Linked DNA regions of Homo sapiens: all the other regions are linked to region 1. The links come from fine-mapping of genetic effects on gene expression. A gene starts in region 1. Each other region holds a variant in brackets. All regions are shown on one strand. Distances are from middle to middle. Region 1 holds the start of NEK3 (NIMA related kinase 3). Region 2 overlaps SUGT1 (SGT1 assembly cochaperone of MIS12 kinetochore complex). Region 3 overlaps NEK5 (NIMA related kinase 5).

The links. PIP is the estimated chance that this variant, and not a neighbour inherited with it, causes the effect. A credible set is the group of variants that fine-mapping cannot tell apart.
Region 2: its variant is the best candidate, but not a certain one, in a credible set for the expression of NEK3 in whole blood (TOPMed, PIP 0.67).
Region 3: its variant is the best candidate, but not a certain one, in a credible set for the expression of NEK3 in whole blood (TOPMed, PIP 0.62).

The regions. Positions count from the first base shown.
Region 1 is chr13:52,154,028-52,164,915 of GRCh38, forward strand. NEK3 (NIMA related kinase 3) reads right to left here and starts at 5,570. Exons shown (of 16, transcript NM_002498.3): 1 at 5,516-5,570; 2 at 2,048-2,221; 3 at 53-146. The coding sequence starts at 2,164. It overlaps LOC124903176 (a long non-coding RNA gene), which reads left to right and starts at 142. Exons shown (of 2, transcript XR_007063806.1): 1 at 142-771; 2 at 835-3,319. RefSeq lists silencers at 5,257-5,366, 5,447-5,506, 7,267-7,561.
Region 2 is chr13:52,692,797-52,703,684 of GRCh38, forward strand. SUGT1 (SGT1 assembly cochaperone of MIS12 kinetochore complex) reads left to right here. Exons shown (of 13, transcript NM_006704.5): 13 at 1-8,113. CNMD (chondromodulin) reads right to left here. Exons shown (of 7, transcript NM_007015.3): 7 at 10,468-10,888. The coding sequence ends at 10,799. Among named protein-coding and RNA genes, the nearest start is that of CNMD, 42 kb to the right of the region's middle. The variant T/G (reference allele first, on the strand shown) is at 5,198.
Region 3 is chr13:52,100,559-52,111,446 of GRCh38, forward strand. NEK5 (NIMA related kinase 5) reads right to left here. Exons shown (of 24, transcript NM_001365552.1): 6 at 9,936-10,019; 7 at 9,782-9,852; 8 at 7,760-7,846; 9 at 3,940-3,994; 10 at 1,534-1,734; 11 at 1,375-1,456. Among named protein-coding and RNA genes, the nearest start is that of NEK5, 23 kb to the right of the region's middle. RefSeq lists an enhancer at 4,115-4,409. The variant C/T (reference allele first, on the strand shown) is at 5,228.

The sequences.
Region 1 (10,888 bases):
TGGCTATAAATCAAATTCAGAAATGCACATATCTGGGGGAATTCGTATTTACCTTCAAATGATTCTTTGAAGGCAACAATATTAGGGTGTTTCATTTTGGCTAAAAGAACAGCCTCCTTCCTAGAATTCTGTGTATTAGAGAAAGACTAGAAAAACATTTTAAATAAGCATAAACTTAATACTGCATTTTAAAATACATAACTTTACAATAACATGGTTTATATGACACTTTAATGCTAGATGCAGTTTTATAACACACTGTGGCTCAACTTAAGTTTGTCAAATGACAAGAGAAAATGCATGTTGATTTTTCAACTCTGGCTATATTTTCATGCTTGAGCTGACCCCTTCATTGTATTTTTATTTTCTTTTTTCATTCCTTACACATACAGAATGTAAATAGTTTTAATATCAGCCTAAGTATCACCTGACTTAGAGAGCCAGTTTACCATCAAAAATAATGTATCTTTTGCTTGATGACTTGTGATGTAGAAAAAAAGAAAAAGAAATGTTTTATCCTAAAAGAAAAAAAAAAGGGAGTGAGGGATTTCATGTTTTGACTGTCTGCATCACTTAGAGGAGTCCACTGGTCCAGATAAAAAAAGAGTATGCTGGTATATTACTGCATCAAGGATGAACAAAGATGGCAAGCAAAGTAAGTTTCCAAAACCATTTATCCCTAACTTACTCTATGAGGATGAAATTCTGAATGATTCATCTTACAATCAAGAAATTGCCATTGTTAGTTGGGTGTGGTGGCTACCCTCCCCAGTGGCTGGGACTATAGATGTAGACTATAGATGTAGTATAGTCCCAGCCACTGGGGAGGGTGAGGTGGGAAGATCGCTTGAGCCCAGGAGTTTGAGCTGCAGTGAGCTACGATTGTGCCACTACACTCCAGCCTGGGCAATAGAGCAAGACCCCATCTATAAATTTTAAAAAAGAAAGAAAAGAAATTGCCATTGATTGTATAGTAACACAAGGGTTCTCAGACCAGCAACATCAGCACCAACTGGGAACTTGTTAAAAATGCAAATTCACAAGCCCACCTGGACCTACTCAATCGGAAGCCTGGGGGTGGAGCACAGCAGTCCATGTTTTAACAAGCCCTCCAGATGATTATGATGCTCACTCAAGTTTGAAAATCACTGAACGAAGTCAAGAATACAGTGGGAAAAAAATACCTAGCACTCTGAGAACTTTATTAGAATGTATTTTTAAAAAATTGATCCAAAATATTATGACATAGTCTTCATGTAATGAATTCTTTCATAGGACAACTATGATACATAGTAATGGTCTACAAGGAAATAAAACCTATAAACTGATCCACAGAGTAGGTTTACTGGTACCAAAGGTTAGCATTCATTCTTCACTGTATTTTTATGATCCTTTTTCATTAATATTGCACCTGAGTTGCTCTGGCAAAGATTTCCTGCACCATTAGGTATACAAAAGTGGTAGTTATTACCAATTATTTGCTGAAATAAAATTAGCAGTAATCACCACCAAAACTTTTACTGTTTTTCTCCCATTGTTAATTACAATATCCTAAGAACCACATATAATGTATCGAGCCCTTGTAAAGCTAACGAATAAACCAATTACATCTTTTGCATGAAGGAGAAATTCCATGTTAAAACTCAAAAACTTATTATTTATTTTTTGAGACAGAGTCTTATTTTGTCACCAAGGCTGGAGTGCAGTGGCACAATCTCAGCTTACTGCAACCTCTGCCTCCCAGGTTAGGGTGATTCTCCTGCCTCTGCCTCCTGAATAGCTGGGACTACAGGTGCAGGCCACCACACTTGCCTAATTTTTTTTTTATTATTTTTACTAGAGACGGGTTTTCCCCATGTTGGCCAGGCTGGCCTCAAACTCCTGACCTCAGGCCGGTCTCAAACTCCTGACCTCAGGTGATCTACCCGCCTCCACCTCCCAAAGTGCTGGGATTACAGGTGTGAGCCACTGTGCCTGGCCAAAAACTTATTCTTTTATATAAACTGCATGTATACTTTCAAAGTGAGCTAATTTCTTTAGTAGTGACCTTGGGAAGCCTTATTTCTTTCATGGCAAACATCTGATTACTGCTTTCATGCTGAACCAAAAGAGCTCTGCCGAAGGAGCCCTCCCCAATCATTCTCAGGACCATGTAGTCATCCATGCTGGGGCATCCACACAGCTGGGCTCCACTCACGCAGTCACCATGGGCTCTCCCAAACTGCATTCAAAAGCAGAAACATTTGAGAATTAAATGTACTTTCAAAAAGCAAAAATTAATTCAAAGTAGCTCTCATAACCATGATAAGAGAAAAGCAAATTATTCCTTTTGAAGAGGATCAGTGTATGCTACCCCAAAATATGCCACTTTCATGTAAGAATTGTTTTGAGCTGAAACCAATTTGCTCTTTGCCCTCCCTTTTTTGTATAAATGCAGGGCATAAATTTTCCTATGTACAGGTAATAAATATCCATTTGTAAATGTGTCTTCCTTTCCAGTACCAGGAAGAGGAGAGCAACTCTTACCAATGGGGAAGGCACCAACTTGAGTCCACATAACAAACTTTACTGAATAACCCTTATCTTATGTTAGCTTCCGCCATATATTTACCTTCCTACAATTTACCCAAGAAGCATTCCCCTACTTTTGTCTAGTTACTTCTCTATAATTTATCACTCTTTGTTAAAATGGCATATGAGCCCCCTGGTCTAACCACTTCTTTACATTTATGCATAAACCTTTTTTCCTGTTAATCTATCTTTCATCAGTTTATTTTGCAGGGCCCAGCTACTGAACCTAAGAGGGCAGAGAAAAAATGTTTTTCCTCCCCTATACTACATACAACAGGCAGACACTGAGCACCAACTCTGAGTCAGATGTTATAATCTGAAAAATCTCTCATAGTCCCTGCCAACGTGGACATCCCATGCAGAGATAACCATAAACCTCAACAAATGTAGGCTATTTAAGCTGAAGCCTGAAGGATGAATGAAACTTGGCTAGACAAAGAGGAGGAAAAGAGTAATCAAGGAAGAGGAAATTGCATATTTAAGAGCTAAAGAAATTACATTCAGTTCAAGAAATTGAAAGAAGAATGTAACAAGCTGCTGAAGCATTTTAACCAAGAAGGCAATATAATCATATTTGCATATTAGAAAAAACATTCACTCAGATTGCAGATTAAATGGACCAGTGGAGGAGGGGCAGGAAGGCCAGCTCAGAGACACAGGCCAGTTAGGAGGCTCCAACAATAGAAAAGGCAGGAAAATAATGAAATGGAATAGAGTGGAGGCAATGGGGTCAGAAAAAATGGGAAGGAAAGATGTAAGAACAGTTGACAGGATTTGTGGTGGCAGATTTATGGGGGGCAAGCAGAGAAGGGGGCAAGGTTGACTCCCAAGTTTCTGGCATGAACCAGATGGTTTCTTGGCACTCCCTGAGAGAGGAAAGGCACAATGGTTGTGTGTGTGGTTTTTTGTTTGTGTGATTTTTCTGGAAGTGGGAGTGTTGCAGGGGTTGGGCAAAACATATTGATAGAAGACAGACATGTGTTTCATTTTGGACATGCCAAACTGGAGGTTCCTGGGAGTCAAGAGAGATGTTAAACACACAGTTGGAGTCCTTGACTTCAGTCTCCCATCTATATTTCCAGGATGAAGCAGCTAGCGGGACTGCTTAGCACATAAGAGAAAATGGATAAAACGTTCCTAACACTTTGCCTGGTACATACAAGGTCCTGAATAACTGGCAGCTATTATGATTATTAAAACCTTAGGGAAGTGATGCATTCTTTTTCATTGCAGGAAAAACACTGTAATGAATTTACTTGATTTTTCAAAAAGCTTACAGTGTTTGTTTTTTATTTTGAGACGGAGTCTCGCTCCTGTTGCCCAGGCTGGAGTGCAATGGTGCGATCTCGGCTCACCGCAACCTCCACCTCCCAGGTTCAAGTGATTCTCCTGCCTCAGCCTCCCGAGTAGCTGGGATTACAGGCATGCGCCACCACGCCCGGCTAATTTTGTATTTTTAGTAGAGACGCGGTTTCTCCATGTTGGTCAGGCTGGGCTCGAACTCCCGACCTCAGATGATCCGCCCGCCTCGGCCTCCCAAAGTGCTGGGATTACAGGCGTGAGCCACCCCGTCCGGCCCTAGTGTTCGTTTTTTAATTACACCACAAAGAATTATAAGGCAGAGAGAGCATGACAGGCAAAGCAAAAATCAAACTAAAACCTCTACTATAGTGACCTGTAAAAATTCCAGTTTGTATTACTGTTTATCACAGAATTACCAGGAAATCCTAGAAATAATTTCTTCATATAACCAAATCAGTCATACACATTGTCTTCGAAACAATGTTTTTCCAAGATCGATGAGGTCTTTTGAGTGTATATAGATGTGAAAGAAACAAGTCCTTTACTACTATTCTAACACCTGGTATTACACGGTTTAACATGGAAGCCAAGTTTCCCCATGATCTTATTCTTCGTTTCTTCGGGGCTTTATTCTATGCAATGGAGAGTAACTGAAAATTAAGAGCAACCAGACTTCTTAGCTGAAAACCACATTTGATATTTTCTGCCCACATTTGCCTGTTACTCAATATTACACCCATATGATCATTACAAGACCTGAATACACTCTGGACATGGCAAAAGTATATCGGCCCCTTCGCATGCCTGCAACAATACTTTTAAAAACCTAATAAAGTGATTTGCAAATACCCAGAAGTGGGATCACCAGTGAGATACGGGCTAAGTTCAGAAAGGTCCCTGAAACCACCTTTACAGATGTATAAGTAATGCGAGAAATCTAACATGACTGACTCCATCTTGCTTCTAACCTCACGGGCTAAGTTTTCACCGTGTTGTCGTTTTCTTATTCTAGCACAGAGGCTAGGATAACTGGGAGAGGGATTTCGTGTAAACTTCAAGACAAGGGAAACTGACCCCACCCCTTCCTGGGAACCAACGAAGCCGCCCCGAGTTTCAGAAGCTCTTGTGATTTCATCCCCAGCCGGTCAACTGTTTCAGTTCCCCAGCCCCCCGAAGCCAAAATGCCCTTTAAAACCCTCGCCCCCGAATTCTCGGGGAGACAGGTCTGAGACCCTGTTCTGGTTTGGCCAGCCCTGCGCTTATTAACTTCTTTTTTTGCTGCAACAGCGGTTCTCACTGGTTCTTTCCGGGCAGCGAGCGAGAAGAATCCGTTGAGCCGGGGCCGGCGCCCGCGGGGCAACTGCACCGCGGGGGAGCCCAGTCGCCCCGCTCACCCGTGAGGGCCCTTTCTCCTGGAAAAGCCGCTCCGCCCTGCTGACCCCCACGGCACCGCGCGCCCAGACCCCAAGGCGGCGAGGGACTTGCGGGTTTGCGGCGAGTGGTCCAGACCGCGGGGCGGAAGTGAGGGGCGCGGCCGCGCGTCCGGGGCGCGTCTACCCCTCGCTCCCACTCGGCTCCGCGCCGCGACCACGCGCCGCCCTCCTCGTTCTAGAGGCAGCCCGCCAGGGCGGGGACCACTCACCCGCTTCCCCGGCGACCCTAGTCCACTCCTTGGCCTGGCAACCGGCGGCTTCCGCGGGGCGGGCCCGGCGGGTCGTCTCTCGGGTTGCGGGTGAAGGAAGCCGCCTGGGTCTGGCGGGAGGCACTGTTCTTGGAGTAGCCGGGCCTACGAAGAGCACGTTTTAAAGCTGTTGTTCCACGTTGCGGTGGAACAGTGCTGTTAACATTGAGGGAAATTGTCCCCGACTAACTGAGTTCTGTCTGCAGGTTAAGTGAAAGCCTATGTAGATAAATTTCACGGGCACAGCACTCAGTGCTAGCTAGAACTTACTAGCTATGTGACCTTGGGCAATTGTGGAAGGCGGGATAATGCTTCCGCCTCAGGATGTCCACATCCTACTCCCTGGAACCTGTGCGTTTGTTCTCTTGCTTGGCAGAGGGGGTTAAGATTGCAGATGGAATTAAGGTTGCTTATCAGCGGACTTTAAAATAAGGTGACGATCTTGGAGTGTGTGCTTGGGTAATTACAAAGTAATTACAAGGGTTCTCTAAAGTGGAAGGGGCCCAAAAAGAAGGTCAGTATGAGAAAGCTATTTGAAGGTGGAGGAAGGGGCAACAGCCAAGGAATGCAGCTGGCCTCAAGAAGCTGGAAGAGGAGCAGGCACAGTGTCTCATGTTTGCAATCCCAGTGCTTTGGAAGGCAGAGGCAGGAGAGGAACACTTTAGCCCAGGAGTTCGAGATCAGCCTGGGCAACATAGTGAGACACTCGTCTCTACGAAAAATTAACTAGACATAGCGACGGGCACTGTGGTCCCAGCTGCTCGGGGGATTGGGGCAGGAGGATCACTAGAGCTGGAGAGGGCTCATGATCCCACCACTGCAGTCCAGCTTTGGTGACAGAGCAAGAACCTGTCTCCAAAAAAAAAAAAAAATATATATATATATATATATATATATATAAAGGAGGAGGTGGGAGGTGGAAAAGGAGGAGAAGCTAGAAAAGGAGGGAAAAACAAAAAACAAAAACCAAATTGTTCCCCAGAGCTTCCAGAAGTAACAGTCCAGCTGACCCCTTGATTTTTTTGTTTTTTGAAACAGGGTCTTGCTATGTTGCCAAGACTGGTTTTGAGCTCCCGGGCTCAAGCGATCCGCCCACCTCAGCCTCCTGAGTGGCTGGGACTACAGGAAAACCACCATGCACACTGACGCCTTGATTTTAACCCAGTGAGCTGTATTTCTGAACTTCAGAACTGTAAGGTAATAAATTCGTGTCGTTTTAGCCACTTAGGTTGTCACAGTTTGTTACAGAAGCCTTAGGAAACTAATACAGCAGAGTAACTAAATCCCTCTGTATAAAAGTATAGAACCTACCTCATAGGATTACTGTGAACAACATCTGGTTACCCTTTACTTGTAAGCGCTGAACGTGTTCATTATAACGTGTCAACCAGAGTCAGAGAGACCGAAATCCAAGTAAAGAAGTTTATTGGCAGTCTGAGAATTGCAGTTCAAGGAACACAGATTCCAGAAGCATTTGAATTGTGTCCTGACCAGCTATTTTTGGGTAGGGTTTTTAAAGGAAGTAAGAAGTCAGTTCTCACTAGTTCATCCATAACCTTCGTAACCCACTATTTTGATTGAAGATAAAGCGTTATCATGACAGTTCATTGGTTTCTAGGCAAAAGTCCTTGATTCAGGGGTTTGAGAAAAGTTCAGTCCTCAGCATGAAGTCCTTTTCATAATGGCAGCAATTTTGTCTGCAACATCAGCAAGTACATTCTGCAGTCAGGCAGTTGTAAAATGGCATTCAGGAACAAAATGGCTTTGCTCTGGCCAGCTCCAATTGCCTTCCTTCCACAATGTCAAAGTTAATGTACAACTATTCTGTAGTGTGGTGATAAGAGAAGGGAAATGCTACAAATCAACATTTACAACATCTGCACTGCTTTCTTTGTACTCTATACAAAGACTAGTTTCAATTAAAAACAAAGAAGGCCAGGCACGATGGCTCAGGCCTGTAATCCCAGCACTTTGGGAGGCCGAGGTAGGCAGATCACCTGAGGTCAGGAGTTCGTGACCAGCCTGGCCTACATGGTGAAACCCTGTCTCTACTAAAAATACAAAAATTAGCTGGGCATGGTGGGTGGCGCCTGTAACCCCAACTACTCGGGAGGCTGAGGCATAAGAATCATTTGAACCTGGGAGGCGGAGGTTGCAGTGAACCAAGATCGTGCCACTGCACTCCAGCCTGGGTGATAGAGCGAAACTCTGTCTAAAAAAAAAAAAAAAAAAATACTGCCCATGCCTGTACTCAGAATGCTGCTCTTGAGAACTGAGCAAAAGACAGATTTCTATCAGATTAAATTTGTGACAGCATCAGGGGAGAAGATGACAAAGGTGCTTAATGCTTTTCTTTCCCACCCAATGATGGCAGTCATGAAAGGGATTCTTTCCCTTGTTCCATCGGTGTATTAGTTTGCCAGGGCTGCTGTAACAGAGTCCCACAAGCTAAATGAATGGTTTAATCAAATTTATTATCTCATACTTCTGGAGGCTAGAGGTCCAAAATAAAGGTGTTGACAGTGTTGGTTTCTTCTGAGGGCTGGAACGAAAAGATCTGTTCCAGGCTTCTGTACTTGACTTGTAGATGGCCTTCTTCTCCCCCACATTGCCTTTCCTTTATGTGTACTGTCTCTGAGTCTAAATTTCCCCTTGTATAAGGACACCAGTCATATCAGATTGAGGGACCATCCTACCCCAGTGTGGCCTCATCTTAACTAATTATATCCTTAACAACCCTATTTCCAAATAAGATCACATTCTGAGGTACTGCACATTAGGACTCCAGCGTATATTTTGTGGGGGATGCAATTCAACCTGTAAGTCAGTAAGAATAGACTGGTGAGGGTAGGGAGAGGGGATGGTGAGAGAAGGTCTGGCCCCCTTTTTATGCAGCTGTTGCCAAGCTGTGGATACCCAGCCAGGAGAGCTTCTGGATATATCCAGAAATAATAAAACGCCACTTCTCCTGAGATGACTGGGAGTTTTCACTCTGTATTAACTGCTTTGTAGTCTACAGTTATATAGACTTTCTTATACTTTTTAACTTCGGTTTGGTTTAAGAGCCACAAGATGACTCACCGAATATATTTCCAGGCATTAAAATAGATGATCTCTGACCCTCACCAGGATTGTTATGTTTGGTTTTTGTTTTGTCAAAGGGGAAAAAAAAAGTTGAGTAGAGGAAGACCTAGAACAAAAAGCAATTGTTCCTTGCTTTTTATCTCCCCAGCTTCAGTCCCACTTCCAAAGGGCAACCACTTTGACCTTTGTGGTTTTAAATTCTCCTGATGATCTTCAACTGTATGAATAGGATTAAGCTGCTATTTTGTGACACTATTGACTCTTGCAAGGACTGATAAAAAGTCAGCTTAATTCACCCCCCTAAGGTGCACATGGTAGTTAACACTATGATTTAGTCCTATTGTTCACTTTAGTAACTTTAATATCCTTAAACTGTTGTTTTTAGTTCTATTAAATACAGACAGCGCCTCTTGGTTCTCCATTTCATGATAGGAAGAACTCTTACTTCCCTTGAACTCCCCACCTCTGCTTCTACCTCCAAATTTCTTATTTTTTAGAAATGAGGCCTCCCTCTGTTGCCCAGGCTGGAGTACCTCTGGTGCAATCATAGCTCATTGCAGCCTCAAACCTCTGTACCTCCAAACTTTTCAAAGCTGTACTCTCTTAGATTTCCACAACTGATAACATTTATATTCCCTTCTGTAACTAAGTCTTCTTTTTTTTTTTTTTGAGATGGAGTCTCGCTCTGTCGCCAGGCTGGAGTGCAGTGGCGCCATCTCAGCTCACTGCAACCTCTGCCTTCGGGGTGCAAGTGATTCTCCTGCCTCAGCCTCCCACGTAGCTGGGACTGCAGGCGTGCACCACCACGCCCAGATAATTTTTGTATTTTTAATAGAGACGGAGTTTCAACATGTTGGCCAGGATGGTCTTGACCTCTGCCTGCCTCAGCCTCCCAAAGTGCTGTGATTAGAGGCATAAGCCACCACGCCCGGCCTAAGTCTTCTATAAGTTGGTTCTAATAGACAATAACCAATAAGCAGCATTAACATTATGAAAATGTTGGTCCACAGCAGAGCTAAGCAGTTTGCTGGGCCTGATTTTCCTGTGTAATCACAATGTCTCAACCCTGTGCTGTTCAGTTTCTCAAAATCATGGTTACTTTGTTGTTGTTGCTTTGCCTAGTACTTTTTTGTTGTTGAAAGAAATCTGTGCCATCTTACCCATTCTATTTTCTTGGAATATTTTTTTGAAAGCCCACTGATGACTCAGTTTAACTCATATTTGTATTGTGATTTTCTTGTAGAGTCTTTTAGGAAATATAATTTCTAGGTACTTTTCTTATTTTCCTTTTCTTTGCCTGAAGTATATCTTCAAGTTCTTCCAACTGTATATTCCATGAAATACCTTTGTTTCCTGGATCCCCCGTTCTTGCTCAGATATGAACTGGTGGCTTAGTCACCCACAAAACTGACATTCTGAGTCACATCTGCAGCTGCCTGAATCCCATGGCTTCCTCAGGATACTCTGCTCTTTTACTGATGGAGTACCTGCTCTAATAACTCCTCCTTAAGAAAAGGTGTCTGGCAGGTAAGCTTTCTGAGTCTTTGCATGTGTAACAATGTCTTTATATTGCCCTCGCAAGTAATTTGACTGGGTAGAGGCGTCTCAAGTTGAAAATCATTTTCCCCCTGAACTTTCAAGCTATTATTCCACCATTTTTAGTGCAGCTGATGATCAATCTAATGCCAGCATGCCTTTTGTTTCTTGTAGAAGTTTGTGTTCCCGTTTCTGGAAAGCTTTTGAATAGCTGGTCATTTATTGAACAAATTTTATTGAGCTGCTACTCTATGGCAGCCACAAGGGCTAGGACCTAGGAACACAATGGTGAAGACTAGATTATTTCTAATGAAGTTTCCCACATATCCACCAAAGACAATGCTTGAGGCATCTTCCTTTTTCTCAGAGGCAGAAACCAAATTAGCTTAACTTTGAAATACAGAGATTTTATTTTTTTAATTTATTTTTTGAGACAGTCTTGCTCTGTCACCCAGGCTGGAGTGCAGTAGCACAGTCTTGGCTCACTGCAACTTCCGCCTCCCAGGTTCAAGCAATTCTCCTGCCTCAACCTCCCAAATAGCTGGGATTACAGGCGCCAGCCACCAAGCCTGGCTGGTTTTTGTATTTTTAGTAGAGGCCGGGTTTCACCATATTGGCCAGGCTGGTCTCAAACTCCTGACCTCTGGTGATCCGCCTGCGTCGGCCTCCCAAAGTGCCAGGATTACAGGCGTGAGCCACCGCGCCCAGCCCAGA
Region 2 (10,888 bases), 540 kb after region 1:
CTTTTGCCTCATACTGGAAGTAATGCAAAGAAGTAGTCTGATTTTTGAGAGGGTGCTGTTTTTCTCAAATCTAGATCATTACAGAGAAACAGTGTACTTTTAACAACTGTTGCATGTGTAAGAAGACTGGTACATGATGCCAATGAAATTCTTTTTTTCCTTTAACTTGGGAGCTCTCATACCAGTTCCGTTGTACAAATGCTGAGATTGTTTCAAGGTTTTATTCCTACAGACATGTTAGGATTTGTGTATCACTGATTTCTCCAATAAAATTTGAATATTTCAGGTTATTTCCTTTTTCCTAACTTATGTTAGCATTTTGTATATATATATATATTTGAATTTTGGCTTGTCTGGAGTCTTAAATATTTGGTATGCCTTCACATTTGGATTTTTAGTTTTATTTTTACATTGAGACTTCTACCTATATCATTGACTTTATTTTTTCCTATGATTAAAGGATTCAGTTATACAAAAAGATGTTTCAGAAACACTGCTATTTACCTAAAGGTAATTTTCAGTTTCTTTAGAAGGAGTTAGGAAAATGGTCCTTAATACCTATATAGGGTTTTTTAAAAAACTGTACCCTATAATGCAGCCACAGAAGATCTAAATAATAAACAATTGCGCATACTATTAATATATATTTAGAGCTTTTGTTAAGTACATGAAAAGACAGTATTGCATAGTGGTTAAATGCATGGACTCTGAAGCCATCCTGTTTGGGATCATCCTGGCTACATTGCTTACTAGCTGTGTGACAATGGATATAGGTGCTTAATGTCTCTGTGCCTCAGTTTTTGTGTCTATGTAAAGGAGATAATAGGATCCCCCTCATGCCTCATGGTCTTAGTTGAATGAATTCATGTAACTCCACAGGTATCTTAATCCAGAAGGCTCAAAATACTAATGTTTTGTGTGTGTGTGTGTGTGTGCATGTGCATCTGTATGACAAGTGATATAAAACGTGACCTGAATTTATAATATGAATAGTCACATTTTGCAGCAGAAATATTAAATGTTTAATTATAGAATGCTAGCACTGATCCTGCTGAAATTGTTACAAAATACAGCAGTTGCCCCTTAACTGTGGCAGATACATTCCAAGACCCCCAGTACTGAATGCTGTATGTACATTTTTTATACATGTATACTTATGATAAAGTTTATAAATTAGGCACAGTAAGATATTAATAATAGAATATACAATATACCGCAATAAAACTTATGTGAACAGTTATTTTTGGACAGCAGTTGACTGTGGGTCACTGAAATTGTGGAAAGCAAAACCATGGATAAAGGGGAACTATTAATAGTCTATCTGTATTGCATTATCTTCTAAAATCCAAAATTCTGACTTCAAAAACTCATCTGAGGGTTTTGGAATTGTGTATCTATGTGTGTGAAGTGCAAAGAGCAGTGCTTCATGTGACAGATAACATCAGATGATCCTAGGCTGGAAGGTGGAAATCCTAGAGAAGATTTTTTTGTGTTGTAAGTTCAGTCTTTCAAGATGTGGAATTCTGTCTGAGGAAAGTATATCACCTAGTTAACAATTGTTACTGTAATTTATAAAATTTGTACTTTGGAGAGCATAAGAATTCATGAAAAGTTTTTAATAATTTTACTTAAACAGAGCTTAATTATGTAAGTATTGTCAGCACTTTATAAAGAATCGTAAAATAAAATAGTGGCAGAAAATATAAACTAGATGTAGAATGTTAAGGAACTTTCGGAAGTTCTCTGGTTTTCATTTCAATTTCAAAGCTCAAAACAGAAGGTAAAACTATTAGGATTTGTGAAAAATACAAGGTACAAAATCACGCAGTTTATAAACCACAGATTGTCTTGTTATTCCCATCAGTGAAAAGAAGCTGATATTTGTTTGTGTTTGTTTTTGTTTTTGTTTTTGAGACGGAGTCTTGCTCTGTCGCCCAGGCTGGAGTGCAGTGGCGCCATTTTGGCTCACTGCAAGCTCCGCCTCCCGGTTCACGCCATTCTCATGCCTCAGCCTCCCAAGTAGCTGGGACTACAGGCGTCCGCCACCATGCCCGGCTAATTTTTTGTATTTTTAGTAGAGACAAGAGTTTCACCGTGTTAGCCAGGATGGTCTCATCTCCTGATCTTGTGACCCGCCCGCCTCGGCCTCCCAAAGTGCTGGGATTACAGGCGTGAGCCACCATGCCCAGCCTGCTGGTAGATGTTTTTATGAGTTAATTCATCAATCTTATTATTCTTGCCCCAAATGAATCAGTGTGGAGCATATACAAGTGTGTAGACATTAATATGGGCTCACTGTCAGCTGGGAGTTCTCACAACTACCACTTTTTACTGATTATCTGTTTTCTAAACTTTTTCTGTGGCTTGAAGTGACTGAAAGTGAACACATTCATAAGTAATGAGCTTAGGCTGAGGATATATATCCAGTGGGGGATGAAACATGCTTAAGAAATTGAGTGCATTTCCTTTATTATTGTTATTATTTTGCTATTTCAAAACAATTGACTTTAAAAAATTATACTTCACCACAGAGACAGGTGTTGTTTTGTAATGGAAGGAGTAGTAACTTATGAATCTAGACTCTTAAAATCCCAGTTCTGATACTTTCATAATTGTGTGTTTTGAGGGCAAGTGACTTATCTGAACTTTTTTCTTTTTTATAACACTGGATGATAATTAACCCTCAGGATTGTGAGGATTTAATAACTAAGTCCTGACTCAAATTATGTTACCAATAAATGCTACTTAAATGTAAAGTCCTTGATTTATTTTTTCCCCTCAGTCCTGTTTAGTGTTGAAATTCTTCAAAGGAGGGTGAGTCTGGCATTTACCTGCTATTCAAGAGTTTTCAGAATTCAACCCCAGCCAAAATTTTTGGCCACATCTCTTGTCACTGCTTTGCTGTGTACTAAAGCTCCCAGACACACAAGAATCTTCTAGTCATGGTCAAACTTTTTCTGCAAAGGGCACTTACAGTCTATTGCATATTCTTTGTTTTTAGTGTTCAGACATCTGCTGTTTCTGAATATGTCGTGTATTTTCATTCCTTTTTCTGCCCCTCCTGGGCATCTCCAGTTTCCTACTGATGTGTCAAAACTGAGTTTGTATGCTACCTCCAGGAAAGCAGTCTAATCTTTTGCAACTCTGTTACTGACTTTTGTGGCATTGGATTGGGTTATTTGCTTATGGTTGAGACATCACTGGATCCTTTGATGGAGTCATACCAAAACCACAACATGTCATGAGCATGCTTGAGAGTGCTAATCTATTCCTTGTTTGTCAGACCAGTACATTACAGTTGGTTCATTTCTTCCCCCGTGTGACTGAGTTTCTTGAGGGCGCGGTCTAGCTTCCATCTTTGTATGTGTAGCACCTGGTACATAGAGAACAGGCTCCCAGAATTGGATGGATTTGCTCATGGTCTTATCACTGCACAGAATGCCCTTATTTTCTTCCATTCATTCTATGAGATCTCAATTAAAATGTCAGTACTCTTGTGGAACTCCCCTCTCCATGCCCTCTACTGAAATGCATTGCCACTCTAGTTGTGATGTGGGAGTGCCTTGTTTATGCCTCTATTTATGACACCTTCATGGTGTCACATGTTATAGGGTTAGTTGCGGCTGTGTCTGTTTTACCTTGTGTGTCTTGGTCAGTTAGTGTTATTTACTTAAGCTTTGGATCTTTGATACATAGCGTAGTGCCTTTCACATAGTATGTACTCAAATATTGGAAGTTACTCATCCCAAACCATAGTGTTTAAAATTGGGGTTTTTTAAAAATGTCAAGCCCTTAAAGTTGATCATTTATTTGTCAATGTAAATAGAATAGTAATTTGTTTTCAAAAAGATGAGGTCTTGCTGTGGTGCTCAGGCTGGAGTGCAGTGGCTGTTCACAGGCGTGATAATTGTGTGTTACAGCCTCAAAGTCCAGGGCTCGAGTGATCTTCTCACTTCAGCCTCCTGAGTAGCTGAGACTAGGCGTGCACCACCGTTTCTGACAGGATTTTAATTTTTAAGTAGGTTTTTAACCCACAGCCACGAGAGCTAATTTTAACTACATTGTTAGAGGTAGTAACAGTTATATAACTAATCAAAACCAGTGTGATATCCAAGTACTTTTTTTTTTTTTTTTTTTTGCTATTTAATTTTGAGATACCATTTTTTGGAGGGGTGTCCTGATTTATTTTATTTATTTTATTTATTTATTTTTATTTTTTATTTTTTTAGATAAGGTCTTGCTCTTGCCCAGGCTGGAATGTAATGGCATGGTCGCAGCTCACTGCAGCCTCCGTCTTCTGGGCTCAAGCAATCCTCCTTCCTCAGCCTCCTGAGTAGCTGGGACTACAGGTGTGTGCCACCACTCCCAGCTAATTTTTAAATTTTGTGTAGAGATGGGGTCTCCCTGCATTGCCCAGGTTGGTCTCTCAAACTCCTGGGTTCAAGCAGTCCTCCCACCTTGGCCTCCCAAAGTGTTGGGATTATAGGCGTAAGCCACTGTGCCCGGCTGTTTTTTGTTTTGTTTTGTTTTGTGTTTTAATTGAACGGACTGAAGTTTACTTTCTAACTAGGTTAGCCCTCCATTCATACAAAATTATGAGCCCAAATGTCTTGGGGAGAGTACAGGAGAGGCCAGATCTTAAAAGCCAGGAGTGGAATTAGGTTTGAGCATATGTAGCAATATGGAAACAAAGAGTGAGTCAATTTATAAGCATACCAATCTTCTTGGAGACAAAAGTTTGAATTGCTCACGTGTCCATTTTTTTTCTGGAATCCCTGAAGAAATTTTGAGATACTGAGTACTAGAAAACCCTCTTTGATGAGGGTTGTATACTTTATTTTTAAACAGTATCAACACCGTTGAGGCCCTTCAAGTCTTTGCAGTCAAAAGCCATACACTTTTTCTTTGAGTGAGCCTTTACTTTAAGGTATGTAGTAGAATAATATAGGTATCTGAAAAAGAACTTGGTTCATGACATCCACTCATTCATTTATGCACTTAGCAAATATTCATTGATTGCCAAATACGCATCAGACACTGAGCTAGGTGCTAGGTACTAGGTAAACAAAATTCCCTGCCTTCATGGAGCTTAGCTTGTGGTGGTGGAAAGAAGCCCTCAGCCTGAATACTCAACTTATGTCTGCCGTTTATTCCTTAACACATTAAACTATAGGTAATAGCATATGTTAGTCTAATC[T/G]TTGTTTAGCAAAGCTATTTCTTGTTCTGGAATATAAGTACAGTTACAGCAGAATAAGTACCAAGGCAAGATTGGAGAATGACCGGTTGTGAACAGGGACTTAGGAATATGTGTAGCATAGGATTTTATTTTAGAGTTGTTAAAATCAGATCAACAGAGCATGTTTTTATGGGCCATCTGACAAGACTAGAGGTAGCTTTGGAACCTCTTATTCCCTGGAATGCAAACATGTATTTGCATTTCATCCACTGTCAGTATGAGGAGACAAAAACGAAGTCAGGATTTTGGAGCTGGAATGGATCTTAAATACTATGTAGTCCAAACGTTTGGTTTTACAGATGCACTTTTTCCAGAGTGCTGTCATCTCATATACTTTTTTCTTCATACAGGTTTTTAATGTAACTCACTCAGATCGTTGGTGATAGACTCTCTCTTAAAACTTATTTATCCTAATCTTTTTTTTTTTTTTTTTTTTAAGAGACAGGGTTTTGCTCTGCTGTCCAGGCACACAATAGCTCACTGTAACCTCCAACTCCTGGAGTCAAGTGATCCTCCTGCCTCAGCCTCTCAGGTAGCTGGGACTGCACTACTAGTGCACTAAGCTAATTTTTAAATTTTTTTTGTAGAGACAGGGTCTTGCTGTGTTGCCCGGGCTGCTCTCTTAACTCCTGGCCTCAAGTAATCCTCTTGCCTTGGCTTCCCAAAGTGCTGGGATTACAGGCGTGAGCCACCATGCTTAGCTGATTTGCCCTAATCCTCTGCTGACATTCTGATATCGGACAACTAAAATTATAACATTGGGCAGCTATTTTGTATGATATATAGGGTAGTGGTTCTTAAGCTTATTGGTGAGTAACCTTCACTTGGGAAGCTTATTTTTAAAAATGTAGACCTTCATTACTTTCCTCCTGAGATTTTGAATCAGTACCTTTGAGAGAGGGTCCAGTAAATCTTTGTTTTGAATGAACTGATGGTTTTGAAGCAGGTGACCTGGAGGACTGCATGTAGAACACAGTGATGTCAAGGAGTAAAGGAGAGAACAGAAGTGAGATTAGCACTAATCACCTCTAATGCCTTATTTCCAGTAAAGTTTAGAGAAGAGGAAAAGCTACTTGGCTTGCTCCTTTGAAGGTTTTGTTTCCCTCTTAACACAGAAATTAAAAGGTAGAGGAGAGATGCTGAATGATGCTTTTTTTCTTCTTAATCTTGGGGGGTCATTATGATTAAGTTATTGAATCCATATCACCGTATGACAGCACATGATGAAAGAAAATCAAATGTTTGTTTCAATCAAAGTGAAACAAAATGAGAATAACTATTTGGGCAAAACACTTTTATCACTGCTAAGATATTACTAGAACTGAGCAGAGAAATACTCAGAGAGAGCCATGGCATAGTACTAATTAATAATGGGGTACCATTTAGCAACTGGAATATTCTCCGATGATGCCTGTTTAATTACCCATAGGTGCTAAGTGAATGTTAAAAATTACGGTGCTGGTTGAGTAGGCCGAGTAGAATTTGTGTTAGGGCACATCCCATGGAGATCTTTTTTACTGCTTAATTTTTTGGAGTTACCTCAGTAACTTAACAGGCAGGAATATGGTTTTAATGGAAAGGAAACCATTTGCCTTTAACAGCATTAGTCCCGCTAAGAGAAAGTTTTTGCTTGTCTAGTTTATTACAGGTCTTTGACTTTGTCAGTATATGGCAAATTTAGTATAAAAGATGATTAATTATCAAGGCTGATGAAATATAGGCAGCTGAAAAGAAAATTCTTAGCAATTCATACCTTAGAAGGAACCCTGAAGGACAGGACGCCATAGAAATCCTGTTTTTTTAAAAAAGTAATTTCAAGTAAGTTTGCAAATGCAATGCTAGTAAAAAGTATATAGAGGTATGTCTTTCACACTATCTTGTTACTATTAGAATTTTTGTAGCCATGTGCAGAGGAGAGAAAAGGTGTTGGATTTTCTGCAGTTCTGATTCAGTTCTAAGAATTTGGTGTGAAAAGAATGTTTGCAAAGGAGCAGGCACAAAGGTGAGAACAGGAATACGAAACACAACATCTGTAAATGACTAAATTCAGAGGGAATTTAGTGGGGCATATCTCTTAAATGGTTTTGAATAATTTGGTGTTTTAACCAATGACTTAATTTAACTTAGTGGGTATACTGTTCCCAGTCCCATTACTGATTTTTATTCCTCTGTGATAACATACACCCAAATAAAGACTGCTATGTATTTGACTTTAAAACTATAAAGATGTAAAAAAGGTTCACTAAGCCAAACACCTTAGAAAATAGCCTCAGCTATTTGCTATGTTTATATTATACCTGCATAAAAGTATTTATGTATAGATGTACTTACCTTACACAGTAAGTACCTAAAATTTGTAAATTGAATACTTTTGAATGTAAGCAGTTGAAGTAAAACCTGTAGTGAGTTCTTCAGTCAGTCAACACTAAACCTGTTTTGTAAATTTGATGCTAGTATTATACTGGACTTTCTCAAAATGAAGTACACCTATATATGCATATAGTATATGAGCATGTGTATTTGTACAAAAGCCCTTCAAAAGGAGTTCAGCTTTTATAAACACCAAAACACTCTCTGCCTGTAAAATGTTTTTGCTGAAATTTGTATCATTAACTCTCAAATTTACATCTTCATGTTTGAGATACGCTTTTAGGACTGTCTATGCATGTAGACTTTGGTCAACTCTCTCCTCCTCCCTCAATAAATCAGTTAACTTAAAAAATATATTGTGACCATTTTTATAAAATACATGTTCATAAAACAGATCAACATATTTAGCTTATACAGAAATAAAATTAAGTCAATCCACTCACAAAGAATTTCTATTTTGTAAAAATGTAGCTTGTATTTCAGTATAATAAAATCTGATGTAAGAAACTGTTGAGTGGGTTAAGTGGTTATTCTTAGTATTATATCTACTTTTTTAGTGTCACAGTTATTTGAGGTGCTGGTGGAAGGGGAGGTGTAAAAACACACAAGTTTTTGCAGCCAGAAAATGAAAACATTTTCCATGTGCTGACTAAATGGCAGCTGTCACATATTTCCTTCCATTCCGAGTCAAACTAGGACCTTGAAATCTAACTTGAGATGTTCCATCAGGATTGGTTTGTACCACTACTGAGAATTAAATGAGTATCTAATGAAGTACCAATAATACACATAAGTCTATACACACATACTAACATTTCAGTCAAGATTCAGCACAGCAAACTGGGCTGTATTTGCAACTTTTAGACTGGCCTGGTTAAAAGTAATTTGAGAAATTAGTAGTACCAAGTTGTGAAGAAATTTGTAATTCTTCCCTGTTGCCCTCTCTTCCTTTATTGAATGCTCATCTGTCCACTTCTCTTTCAAAGTAGACCCTTATTTTCATCCTTGAATACAATTTAAGTCTCCTTTGTCATTCCTATCCTTAATCCAACCTTGAATTTTTCCTCTGTTATTAAATCATCCTGATTTTTTCTGTTAAATTGATGTCCTTGGGTATTTAGTGACGTTTCATAACACAACATAATCCCTTGGCCTGTTAGAAGTAAATTACGCACCTCCTATATTTTCATCTAATTATGAAGCTTTGAAAGGGAGCATCTTTTCAAAAGTCAGCCTTCCCTTATGACCTGCTGTCCTTATTAAGATGCCTCTTTGGCCTGTATGGCACCTGCTCAGTTTTCACATGGGAAGCTACCAAGGGGGATTCATCTAAGGTGAAAACTTAACCAGCTCCCTCCTTGCCTGCAACTTTTCATTTCCTATTTCCTACACACACACAGACACACACACACACACACACACACTCCCCAGATTAACATGCCACTTAAAGCTTCTGCCTACATTTTCATCTTGATATTTCCTACCCCGACCTGAATGCTGTTTTCCTGCTTGTACCATGCAGCTTCACTTCACACCTCTGGTCTTACTCAAACTCCCTCTGCCTGGAATGCAAATCTTCTGTCACCTTCACTTGGCTAATTCCTGCTCATCCTTGAAAATCTAGAGAGTAGACATTCTCCAAGAAGCCCATTGCTTCCATCTTTATCAAGGCTTTGTCTGGTGTGCCTTGATTATCTGTATCTCTCATAAGACCATATGCTCTTCTGGGCTGGGATCACTAAATCATTCTCTTTATTTTTAGAACCCAGTACAGGTTGCTGAGCCATGGGGGTGGGAGATGATATGCAGAACCATTGACGCATATTTCTTTCGTTAATAGAGTAACAGCAGTTTTAAAGACTAAACGTGGAATTCATAACTGCAGGAAGTAGCTGCTTCCTGAGAACAGTGTGACCATTACATGTCATTACGGTGCCTTTCCTTCGTCTCTTTTCTCCAGAGACCTAGGCTTGCTGTGTATTTCATTAAATGGAGGGATCTGAGTGTTCACCTGAAAACCAGGTTTTTAAAATTCTGTATCATTTTTATAGACTTTAATTGGAAAACACCAGTATTAGGGATTTACTGTGGAATACACAATAATAAGGTATATTCTGAATATGAGAGTGTAGTGAGATCATGGCATCAAGACCTTTCTGTCGTCTCAGAATCTGTGTTTTGGAAAACTTCTATTTTCCTTAGGAAAGTTGTTTATCTATCAAACGGTGGGATGCAAAACTGAAATGTCAAAAATATAAAATACCTGCTCATCCTCTTGATCTAATATTTCAATTTCTAAAGACAGTCCTTGTTCCTGAGAGACTTTATGTCATTATACATAAATAAGCTATTCCTCCTCAGCTGTATCTGCCAAGCAACACTGTCAGCCCTGTAACTAGGAGAGTAACTTATTGGTAATTGGACTACAGCCGCAGCCTGATTTGTACTACAAAGGTAAAAATCATTATGCTTCTTCATGCCCAGTGACCACTTACTGAAAACAGATTGAGAAAGGTGTGAAGACCTGCTTTTCAGAATGTCAATAAAGTCCTTCCTCCCCACAAGTCTGATTTATCTTCGACTGCATTTTTCTTTATCCTAGTGCTGTTTCCCTGGAGGTGACTCTTAACACAGGTCACATGCCAGTGCACTCAAATAATTCCCCATGAGCTTCCAGATTGAGGCTAAAAATGTTCACTTTTAGGTAGATTCCATTATATATCCTTTCCTTTTTCTGTGTGTTTTTATCTGGGAATTCTGGGGACAAAAAAGATTAAGAACAGTTGAGGAATTCTGTACAAATAACAATGACTTATTTTCATCATGACTTAATTAAAAGGAGCTCAAGTGTACAATTGAGATTTTTGGCAAACTGTAAATTTTCATGTTTATTTCAAAATAGCTTTGGAAGATACAAGCAAGGGAAGACTTATGGCAAAGCAATGCAAATAAAAAATAACAAATAATAAAGGGGTTATGGCATTTTAGACTTGAACTACCCTTTCAGTACATTTGCATATACTAAAGTTCTGGAAAACAATTGAAAAAATTCTGTTAAGAGTGTCAAGAATAACCGCTCAGGTTGAGTGTAAAAATATTTTGTGGTCCTATCAGCATCAACCTGCCTTAATGCTTCTTTGGTTGTCTCTTCAGCTAGTTCTTATTTTACAGCACATGATATATGAAGTGATTTCACACCATGCCCAAGATACGGGCCACCCACCAGCTACATGGCATGATGACTCTGCAGGCCGAACGGCAGCCTTGATAATTATAAGGCCA
Region 3 (10,888 bases), 53 kb before region 1:
GCTTGTCTTTATCTCCATCAAAATTTGTTCTTGGGCTGAGTAAGGTGGCTCGCACCTGTAATCCCAGCAATTTGGGAGGCCAAGGTAGGAGGATTGTTTGAGCTCAGGAGTTCGAGACCAGCCTGGGCAACACAGTGAGACCCCATCTCAATAAAAAAAAAATTGTTCTTGTTCTCCTATCTTACCTAGATTAGAAATATGGACAATACACAGTCCCATACTCTGTACTTGTCTATTTTCTAAACATTCTCAATCTAGACTGGTATACAACAATGTTAGTCAAATTAAATGGCAAAGAGGCTCATTCACTTTCTCTTTAACTTTCCTTGATTTTAGAATCTCTGTCTCAATGGATAACATTTCCCTGTCATGGATTCCTTTGAGAGGCTTTCTGCTCCTCCTGATATTGTAAGTCCAGGCATTCAGTTACAGCTAAATTCTGGGGCTTTGACTTTCACAGCATCAAATGAATTAGTAATTTTCTCTTTCTTAACGTACCCCTCCCTCTGACACACAGCTTAGCTGATTCTTGACACCAGGACTAAAATAGTTTTCTCCGGCCTGGCGCGGTGGCTCACGCCTGTAATCCCAGCACTTTGGGAGGCAGAGGCGGGCGGATCACGAGGTCCGGAGATCGAGACCATCCTAGCTAACACAGTGAAACCTCGTCTCTACTAAAAAAATACAAAAAATTAGCCGGGAGTGGTGATGGGCGGCTGTAGTCCCAGCTACTCGGGAGGCTGAGGCAGGAGAATGGCATGAACCCGGGAGGTGGAGTTTGCAGTGAGCAGAGATCGCGCCATTGCACTCCAGCCTGGGCGACAGAGCGAGACTCCGTCTCGGAAAAAAAAAAAAGTTTTCTGTATTTATTACTACCATAAAATATCTCCTGCCTTCTTTGGGAACCACAAAGTAACAGTTCTTACTGTTATCAATTAGGCCCCAAGATCCTAACTTCAGCTCCAATGGTCCTTTGCAACAGAATTCTTAATTGCCAGTCTATCCTCTTTTAGAAAAATAAGTTTCATCTCATCATCCATGTCTATCTGCAACCTTCTCCCACTCTGTCCCTTCACTACACAAAAGTTAAGTTTGGGCTCAACCTCTTCAAGCATCTCTATTAGCATGTCCTCTGCTTCATGGAGGTTTCCTGACTAACGAGAAGGAACCCTGCAGGTCATGCATGAGCTAGATATACAACTTTCAGGCACACTCACTAGTTGCCATTTGACAAGATGATTTTTCTCCTGCTTATACTGCTTGTATTTTTTAAAATGTCCACTTTCAATATGTTTGGTGAAATTTCCTTGCATTACTCTCTGTGTGAGACATGTGTAATAAATACTTTTGATTGCATGCCAAAGTCACACTTACTCTGGACCACCTTCCCAGCATGTCGAGAAGCTGGCGCTCCTGCTCTGCATATAAGCATGTGACTGAATTCTTCCTGAATGACCTAAAACCGAACACACGTGTCAAGGACCTGCAACCCAAAATCTCTGCCAAAATCCAAACAGTCACCTCAAAACTTACCTCAGGAGTCAAATATTTGGGAATAAGATTCTCTAAAAAGGGCCTTTTCAAAATGGAATTTATGGATGGTCGGTCTCGAGGAGATACTTGAAAGAGCTGAGATATCAAGGAATGGAGCTCACGAGAAAACCCCGGAGATATTGGGGCAAAATGTGCTTGACAAATCTTCAGAACCAGCTGCTGTAAGTTGTTACCCTCAAACTGAAAGGACAAGGAGAAATGACACTAAATCAGAGAAAAGTTACTAAAGTAACAAATAATAAAAGTGTTAAAGTAACAAATATACCAAGAAGCAAAACAATGTTTTTAAATTGTAGTTAGAAGCACTAGGGTCACCTGTAATCCCAGCAATTTGGGAGGCCAAGGCAGGAGGATCACTTGAGCCCAGGAGTTCAAGACCAGCCTGGGAAACATAGTTAGACCTCATCTCTCCAAATCATGGTTTTTAAACATTTGCTGGGCTTGGTGGCATGAGCCTGTGGTCCCAGCTACTTGGGAGGCTGAGGCAAGAGGATTGTCTAAGCCCAGGCGGTCAAAGCTGCAGTAAGCCGTGATTGCGTCACTGCACTCCAGCCTGGGTGACAGAGTGAGACCCTGTCTCAATCAAAAAATAAAAAAGAAGCACTGTGGTCCACCTTAAATTGTTTTCATCAACTAATCTTTCATGAGCAGATACTGCAGTTATTCAACAAGATGCCATGTTATTTAAAACAAGTTTTTATTTTGTTTTAATTCTGTCTTATTATCAAAATAATGTTTACTCATAATAAAAAAACTGGAAGGTATAGGAAGTTATAAAGACAGGGGAAAATATGTATAATTTTACCACTCAGAGGTATAGCTCCTTCTGATCTCTTTTAAAAATGATGTTTATTTTACAAAGTTGAGGTCATATTGATATGAAATTTTATCTCTTGCTTTTTAAAATTAACATAAACATCGTTTAATTTCCTCTAAAATGCTTCATAGACCAGAAATCTTCTATTGTATGAAACCAATAGTTATTTATACATAATAATATTCAACTCCATGGTGTAGCAATAAAGGTACACATTGGCCGGGCATGGTGGCTCACGCCTGTAATCCCAGCACTCTGGGAGGCCAAGGTGGGCAGATCACCCAAGGTCAGGAGTTCAAGACCAACCTGGCCAACATGGCAAAACCCTGACTCTACTAAAAATACAAAAAAATTAGCCGGGTGTGGTGGTGGGTGCCTGTAATCCCAGCTCCTCGGGAGGCTGAGGCAAGAGAATTGCTTGTACCCAGGAGTCAGAGGTTGCAGTGAGCTGAGATCGTGCCACCGCACTCCAGTCTGGGCAACAGAGCGGGACTCCATCTCAAAAAAACAATGGAGTACACATTTTGGTCAGACACTGGCTGTGCAACCCTTGACAATAATTAATAACAATGATGACAGCTGTGGAGAAAAGAGTTGATGTAGCAAGCTCTCCTCAGAAAGGCCTGCTTACAATGTTGGCCCGTGGCTGGTGTCTGGGAACTAAGATTTCAGAAGAATTCCCACCATTCCCTGAATGTCAAGAGTGGCTATCTTTGCCTCAGCTATTTATGTGAACAAAATGGTTTATGCTGAACACGGGCTTTCTTTCCAGGAGTCTGGAAGTTTGGCATATGCCAGGTAGAGGGTGCCTATGTGACCAGTCCCCAGTAAAAATCCTGGGCACTGGGTATATCCGATGAGCTTTCTTATAGATCACATTTCACAGGTGACGTGGGTAACAATGCTGGAGGATTTGGCACATCCCATGTGACCTCTGGGAAAAGACTCTTAAAAGCTTGTGCCTGGTTTCCTATGAACTTTGCCCATGTACATTTTTCTTTTGCTGAACGTATCTATTCATACAGTAATTAATTAATTAATTATTTTTTTTAGATGGAGTCTCGCTGTCACCCAGGCTGGAGTGCAGTGGCGCAATCTCAGCTGACTGCAGCCTCTGCCTCCTGGGTTCTAGCAATTCTCGTGCCTCAGCCTCCCAACTAGCTGGGACTGCAGGCACATGCCACCATGCCTGGCTAATTTTTGTATTTTTAGTAGAGACGGGGTGTCACCATCATGTTGGCCAGGTTGGTCTCCAACTCCTGACCTCAAGTGATCCACCCGCCTCAGCCTCCCAAAGTGCTGGGATTACAGGCATGAGCCACCACGCCAAGCCCACACAATTTATTTTTAATGGAAATATGCTACACATACTATTCTCCAACTTGGACTTTTTACTTTATAATATTGCTTGGACAGCTTTCCATGTCATCTATCATTATTTTAAGTAGCTTATCCATATAATTTTTAACAATCTAATAAAACCAAACATTAACCTTTTTCTCCCAGAAGTTAATTTCTTTTCTACAATTCCAATAATTCAAGATTAGTCTGACAATGAGCATACTTACAGGATGTTTAAGTGTGCAGAGCTCATATAAGACACAGCCAAGAGACCAAATATCCCTAAAGAAGATAAGAGTTTACATGCCAAGAAAATATCCATAATTCTTAATAAAAGCTTTTATCCTTACAGTGCCTTAAATTTGTGTCGCTTTACAATTTTATGTAAGTTGATCAGCTTTTACAAATGCTTTCAGATATATCATCAATTCTTATTAGAAGATAAGAGGTAAAATGAAAACCATTTGTAGTTTGTCAGATTTCTAGTCAAAGAAAGGCACACAAACTTTGCTACAACCTGGTGGCTTAATATTTAGTTCAGCTTCCTGCTCAAAAACAATGTATGTATGATGAAATGTTGAGCAATTTGGAGGAGGCAGGCAGAACTCAAACATGGATTTGTTTTGACTCAAAAGGTAATATTTGGTTGATTTTGAAAGATATATCCTACTCAAGGCTTTTGACAGAACCAAAGTTATATTATGTGATAAACATAGTATCTGATTCTCAATAAACATTTAAAAATATACTTAAAATATATATCATGAGCTTTGCTCCTTACAGATTTAGTACTTCATAAATATTTATATGTGATTGGTTTGAGGAGTTATTTTATAGAACAAAAAGCACAATTAAATCTAAAAGATCAAAAAATGTCTAATCAGAAGTCAAGGAGTCAAAGCAAGAAGGAATCATTAAAGTGAGGAGTGAGGTAAATGGCTCCTCTAGCAGCAATGCTTTGTGCATGAGTGTGTGTGTGTGTGTGTGTGTGTGTGTGTGTGTGTCAGAGAGAAGGAGAGAGAGATAGACTCATACTAAAAGTTTGAGTACAAAAGATGGTAGTAAGTACAATAGACGGTAAGATTGGTGGGAAACAAATTTGTGGGATTTTTTTTAATAATTTTTTTTTTCATTAACAAGGTTTCACCATGTTGCTCAGGCTGGTCTCAAACTCTTGAGCTCAAGCAATACTCCCTTCTTGGCCTCCCAAAGTGCTGGGATTACAGGTGTGAGCCGCCTGCACCTGACCCAGGAAACAAACATGAACTTTCTAGACCTTCTAGAAACTCACTGACCATTTCACACCACACAGACTTTTGTCTTTACTAGGGCTTCCACAGACCCAAACTTCTCTTCTGTTCCCAGAGGACCCTCTGCAGCCAGGGCAGAGAATTCATATGCCCCCAGGGCTCAGGCAGTACTGCAGCCACCTGGGGGTTGGGTGGGGCCAGTTGCAGGCCTGAGACCACTCTGCATATTGAGGACTGTGGTGAACCAGTCCTCTAATGGAGCCAG[C/T]GGCTACCCACCTGATTATTGCTAAGATCTTCCAATTTTCAGAGGTACAAACTATGCATATTTTAAAGTCTTTCAATATTTAATTTTTTTTTGGATGTAGTGACAGGGTCTCACAATGTTGTCCAGGTTGGTCTTGAACCCCTGGACTCAAGCAATCATCCCCCTCAGCCTCCCAAAGTGCTGGGATTATAGGCATGAGCCACCATATCCAGCAGCATTTAAATGTTGATTCAAATTCTTGAAAAGCAGTACAAGCAAACAAAACAATGCAGCTGACCCAAGGCTGTCTGTGGCATGCCCTGCTCTGAACAGCCTACTTTCCGTCCAACACACCCTACCTGAATTCCTGCACAACTAACTTGAGGCCAAACTCCTTGGTGCCAGGGGATGTCTCAAAAAAAAAAAAAATCCCTGTTATTTTATTATGCAGAGAAATTCTTACTATTCTTTTTGTAAATCTCTATTGTCTGAGCTTTGCCTTCCATTTATCTCCTTCAAAGTCCAATAGCCAAGTATCTCTTGGGCATTTTTTCCTAAACAAAAGGACAATTAACTTCCAAAGGGAACTCAATCTTCCTTATCGCCAACTTGTTCAATGGCAGCCAGCTTTGAAAAATGAAATTTTTTTCCTTCTCCTTATAGGAAGCAAAAGCTCCTCTTCACCTTTTCTTGCAGTATACATTAGCATTACTGCTGAGGGCCAGGTGCGGTGGCTCACACCTGCAATCCCAGCACTTTGAGAGGCTGAGGCGGGCAGATCACCTGAGGTCAAGAATTCAAGACCAGCCCGACCAACATGGTGAAACCCCATCTCTACTAAAAATACAAAATATTAGCTGGGCATGGTGGGGCGTGCTTGCAGTCCCAGGTACTTGGGAGACTGAGGCACGAGAATTGCTTGAACCTGGGAGGCAGAGATTGCAGTGAGCCGAGATCACACCACTGCACTCCAGCCTGGATGACAGAGCCAGACTCCATCTCAAAAAAAAAAAAAATTATTGCTGAGAACCAGACTCTGATATCACATACATAAAAACTAACTGGGTTTTAAAGCTGGAAGACACCTTGAAGATTACCTAGTCAATACTCTCATTATTATGAGTTAGGGAACTGAAGCCCACAGAGGTCAACTGACTTGGTCAAGTTAGCAACTGAGCCAAGACTAGGATTCCTAGCTCCTAATCCAGTGAGCGGTCACCAGACCACATTGTCTTCTACTTCATCCTCTTCAATCTTTCTTGCAATAGACTAAACAGTGCTTCAAAGATATGAACATATAATACAAAAATGGACATCACAGTGACTGCAATTTTCGATGTTATTTTTTATACCACTTGTATCTTTAAATGAAGAGAAATGGCTTTCTTCTAAACAAGTTTGAAACCTTCAGGTAACACTGCTCAGAGATAGTCACTGGGATCCCCATTTTGTGGCAGGCCAGGTCTTACCAATGCAGGCCTCCATCACAACTGTTTCTATACTGAGTGGTGAAGTTAAATATTAAAAGCTAAAAAAGCCAGTGCCCAGCCAGGCACAGTGGCTCACACCTGTAATCTCAACACTTTGGGAGGCTGAGGCAGGCAGATCGTGAGGTCAGGAGTTTGAGACCAGCCTGGACAACATGGTGAAACTCCATCTCTACTAAAAACACAAAACTTTAGCTGGGCATGGTGGCAGCCACCTGTAATCCCAGATACTCAGGAGGCTGAGGCAGGAGAATCGCTTGAACCTGGGAGGTGGAGGTTGCAGTGAGCCGAGATCGTGCCATTGCACTCTAGCCTGGGTGACAAGAGCAAGACTCTATCTCAAAAAATAAAAAAAAAAAAGCCAGTGCCCTTATACAAAGGCTGTAATGTAACAAAAGCCCACCAAGAGTTTTGCCTAGGCCTTTCCTGGGCCTTAAACCATGACAAAATAATGAAGGAATTCTTAACAAGGAGCCTTTTAAGATTAAACAAGTTTTATTGGTGGTCTGAAGAAACTCCCCAGGCCTCCACAAACAAGTTTATTGGAGGTCTGCAGGAACTCCCTAAACCTCCATGATTTAGCAGGAGACAAAATAAGGGTAATCACCCCAGGACCTAGACCCATTTAGATTAAGTAAGCTTACTGAGGCTCCAGAAGAAAGTCTTCAGGACTCAGACCTTAGTTATAGATTAAAAGGAGTTAATCAGTATGTCTTTAAATGAATGCACACTTACACATAGACATATAGCTTAGAAGGTGTATAAGCTCTGAAAAACTTTGTAATTTTGAGTCGGTCTGGTGATAATTTCCAGGCCTTCTCCCTGTACTGGTTACAGAAATAAAAACTCTCTTCCTCCCCAGTTCATCTGCATCTCGTATTGGACCGCGAGAAATAGCAACCCAACCCTCAGTTTGGTCCAGAACAATTTCACACATGAAGCAAATGAAATTACAAAAGTACCATAAGAAAGAAAGAAGAGATTTGAATTTTAGTTTCTGGAATCTTCATTCAGTGTCATCCATCAGATTTTACTGACACTTTCAAACTAAGAGTCAGCAACTTACGTTTTATTGTTGTAGGGTTTATTCTGACAGATCTCTGGGGACAGGTAGTAAGGTGTTCCAATACAAGTTCGAGCAAGTTCCATGGAACTAGTAAATTATATTAAATAATAAATCAGCATGATTTTTTATTGGAGTAAGAAAAGTCTTAAGACATGGACATGCAAGAAAAAATGTGAAAATGGATAACACAAGATTTGATGCATACATGTGTTAGAAGAAAGCAAAACACTGTATGTTGATAAAGTAACTAAATCAGCTGATTTTTAAACTTACAATTCACCTCCCAAAAATTTACACATTAAAATATATTTTTTATGGCTTAAAGACTCCACAAAGAGATGAAATTGTCATGTTATAAAAATCTCTCAGATGTAGAGATTATCAAATTGCAACCTCATGATTTAAAACTTGGAAAATACAAAAATGAATAAGGGAGAAAAAAGTTACCCAGAATCTTAGCACCTAAAACAACTATTGTTAAAATTCTGATATATTTCCTTCCTGTCTTCTTTCCACACATATTTTTCATATAACCGTGATCACAATGTATTTAAAATTCAGAATTCCATTTTCTTTGCTTAGTATAACAAAGTTATCAAGAAGTCTTCAAAACCATAAATGTTTATGATATATTCAGGTACATGGCCATGGCCATGCCAAGCTTTATTAAATTTAACCATTTCCCAATTATTTAGGCATTTACGTTATTCCAAATTTCAAATTATTCCCTTGGAAGAAGTCCCAGAAACAGGATATTTAAAAATCTCTTGGTACATATTGCCACCAAATTGTCTTCCAAACAGGTGCACAAATTTATTTTGCTAGAAAGTGTGTAAACCAAAAATAAAATTCTAAGCCCCCCAACCAACTCATAAACCCTCCCTTTGGCCAAGGACATTCCAAAGTTAACCTGAAAAACTAGTTCAGGCCATGATGGGAAGCAGGGTCTGATATGCCTCATTAACTCCTCCTCCCCTTTGGAATTCAGGCACAGTTGACCAGCATTAACATTAAAACAGACCTTAAGACTGACAAAGCAGACTCCTTGTAGCAATAAGATACCAAAGTCCAGCCTGACTCTAGTATAACATCACATGACAGATAGCAGGCCTGAAAGGAATCAAAATATTTTACCCCAAATCATGTTTCTTTGTCCATATCTTGAAATAGTCCTGCAAAGGTATCTCTTGTGGGGAAAATCTACATTCTGAAGAAAATTCCCTTCTTTTTCCAAGGCTTTTTCCTGATCCAGGAAAAAGTTAACTAAGAGTCTGGCACCTTTTTAAATCCGATAAGAGGAAATATTTACAATCTATTCTCTCTGAGGCCTGCTACTTGGAGATTTCATCTGCATAATAAAAACCTTCATTTCCACAACCCCTTATCTTAACCCAGACACTCCCTTCCACTAATTCCAGGTCTTCAGATAGACTCTTTCAATCAATTGCCAATCAGAAAAGTTTTTAATCTACCTATGACCTGGAAGCTCCCTCCCATTCTTCCCAGCTTTGAGTTGTCCTGCTTTTCTGGACCAAACCCATGTACATCTAATTGATGTCTTGCATCTCCCTAAAATGTACAAAACCAGGTTGTAGACCGGCCACCTTGGGTACATGTTCTTAGGATCTCCTGAGGGCTATGTCACAGGCATGGACCTTTGGTCACTCGTATTTGGCTCAGAATAAATCTCTTCAAATATTTTATAGAGTTTGACTTTTTTCATTAAGAAGTGTAAACCTGCCTATTTCACGAAATTCTCTCTAGCTTTATGCATATTACAGTCACATCCATATTTGAGAAACTGGAATCACACTACAGAATATTAGCAACATCATTCTATTACACCACAATTTATCTTGAGAATTTTAATCTCAAAGTACCATCTGATGTAATGCATTTACATAAAGCTACCTAAAATTATTTAGACAACCAAGATTTTAATATCTTCTTAATCCATGATATCTAAAAATACATATTTGGGCTATTTTGACTAGAAAGAAAAATTATTTTCAAAGTACTTACTTATTCAGGACTCTTGCTATACCAAAGTCCCCAAGCTTTGCCACCATTCCGTTCTTGCTAAGAAAAATGTTCTATAAATGGAGAAAATGTCATGTTGTTTGAGGTACTTCAAGAAAAGATCAGTTCTGTCTTAGTCTTCTCTCTGAGCTGTTACCTGAGCTTTTATGTCCCTGTGTAATATCTTCCTGTCATGAATATGTTTTAGTCCTAGAGAAATCTGTACAAACCAACCGAGGATCTATAGAGAGAACACAAAACAAAGCCACTGAATAGCCTGGTAGTCACTGAAATGTCTTCATGGTAACATGCAAAAAGATAGAAATTATACACACACACACACACACATACACACATATAGTGTATGTGTATTTATAGGAATGAAGTTAATAGGTACACTTTATCATATTATTATTTTCATTCTACAACTAAAAAAATGGAGGCACAGAAAAGTAATCCAAATATCACTGGTAAAATCAAGGGAAATTCCACATGCAGAAAAAGATAAGTAGAAGCAAGGGAAAGAGGCATGCCGTTCATGTTTTTCTTTTTTTCCTACTTAACCCTGGGGTGCTAACTGCATCGTGAATAGTACACAAGCAGCCCTGTTTCCTGATAACCTGGAAGCCATTGGTTCTTCCTTTACAGTGGAAGGAGGGTGACAAGGGTGGGGAGAGAAAGAGGAAGAAATGGGGGATCTGTGAGGTTAGGAATTGTAATAAAATATCAGTATATCTAATATAAAACCAACAAATACTTTACCTTTGAAGTTTAGTTTTATTTCTAAGTCATGATTTGATTTTATCTTTGTTGACCATGAGCCTCTTTATGAAAATGTGTTCTATGCCTACAGAGATTTATTTAAACTATTCTAAAATTTCACTGGTTCTTTGTCTGCCAAATTATACAGAAAGAGGAAAATAATAGGAATAAAGCTATATTCCAGACATTAATATTCAGTTGTAATTTTAGTTCATTCCCAACAAAAAGAAATGTAACTCAAAATTTTGTCATGAGAAGCATTTTTATAAAATGTGGCAAAATAATACCTAGATAAGAAAAAAGAGTTTCTATCAATATGGAATTTAATATATAATATAAATGAGCATA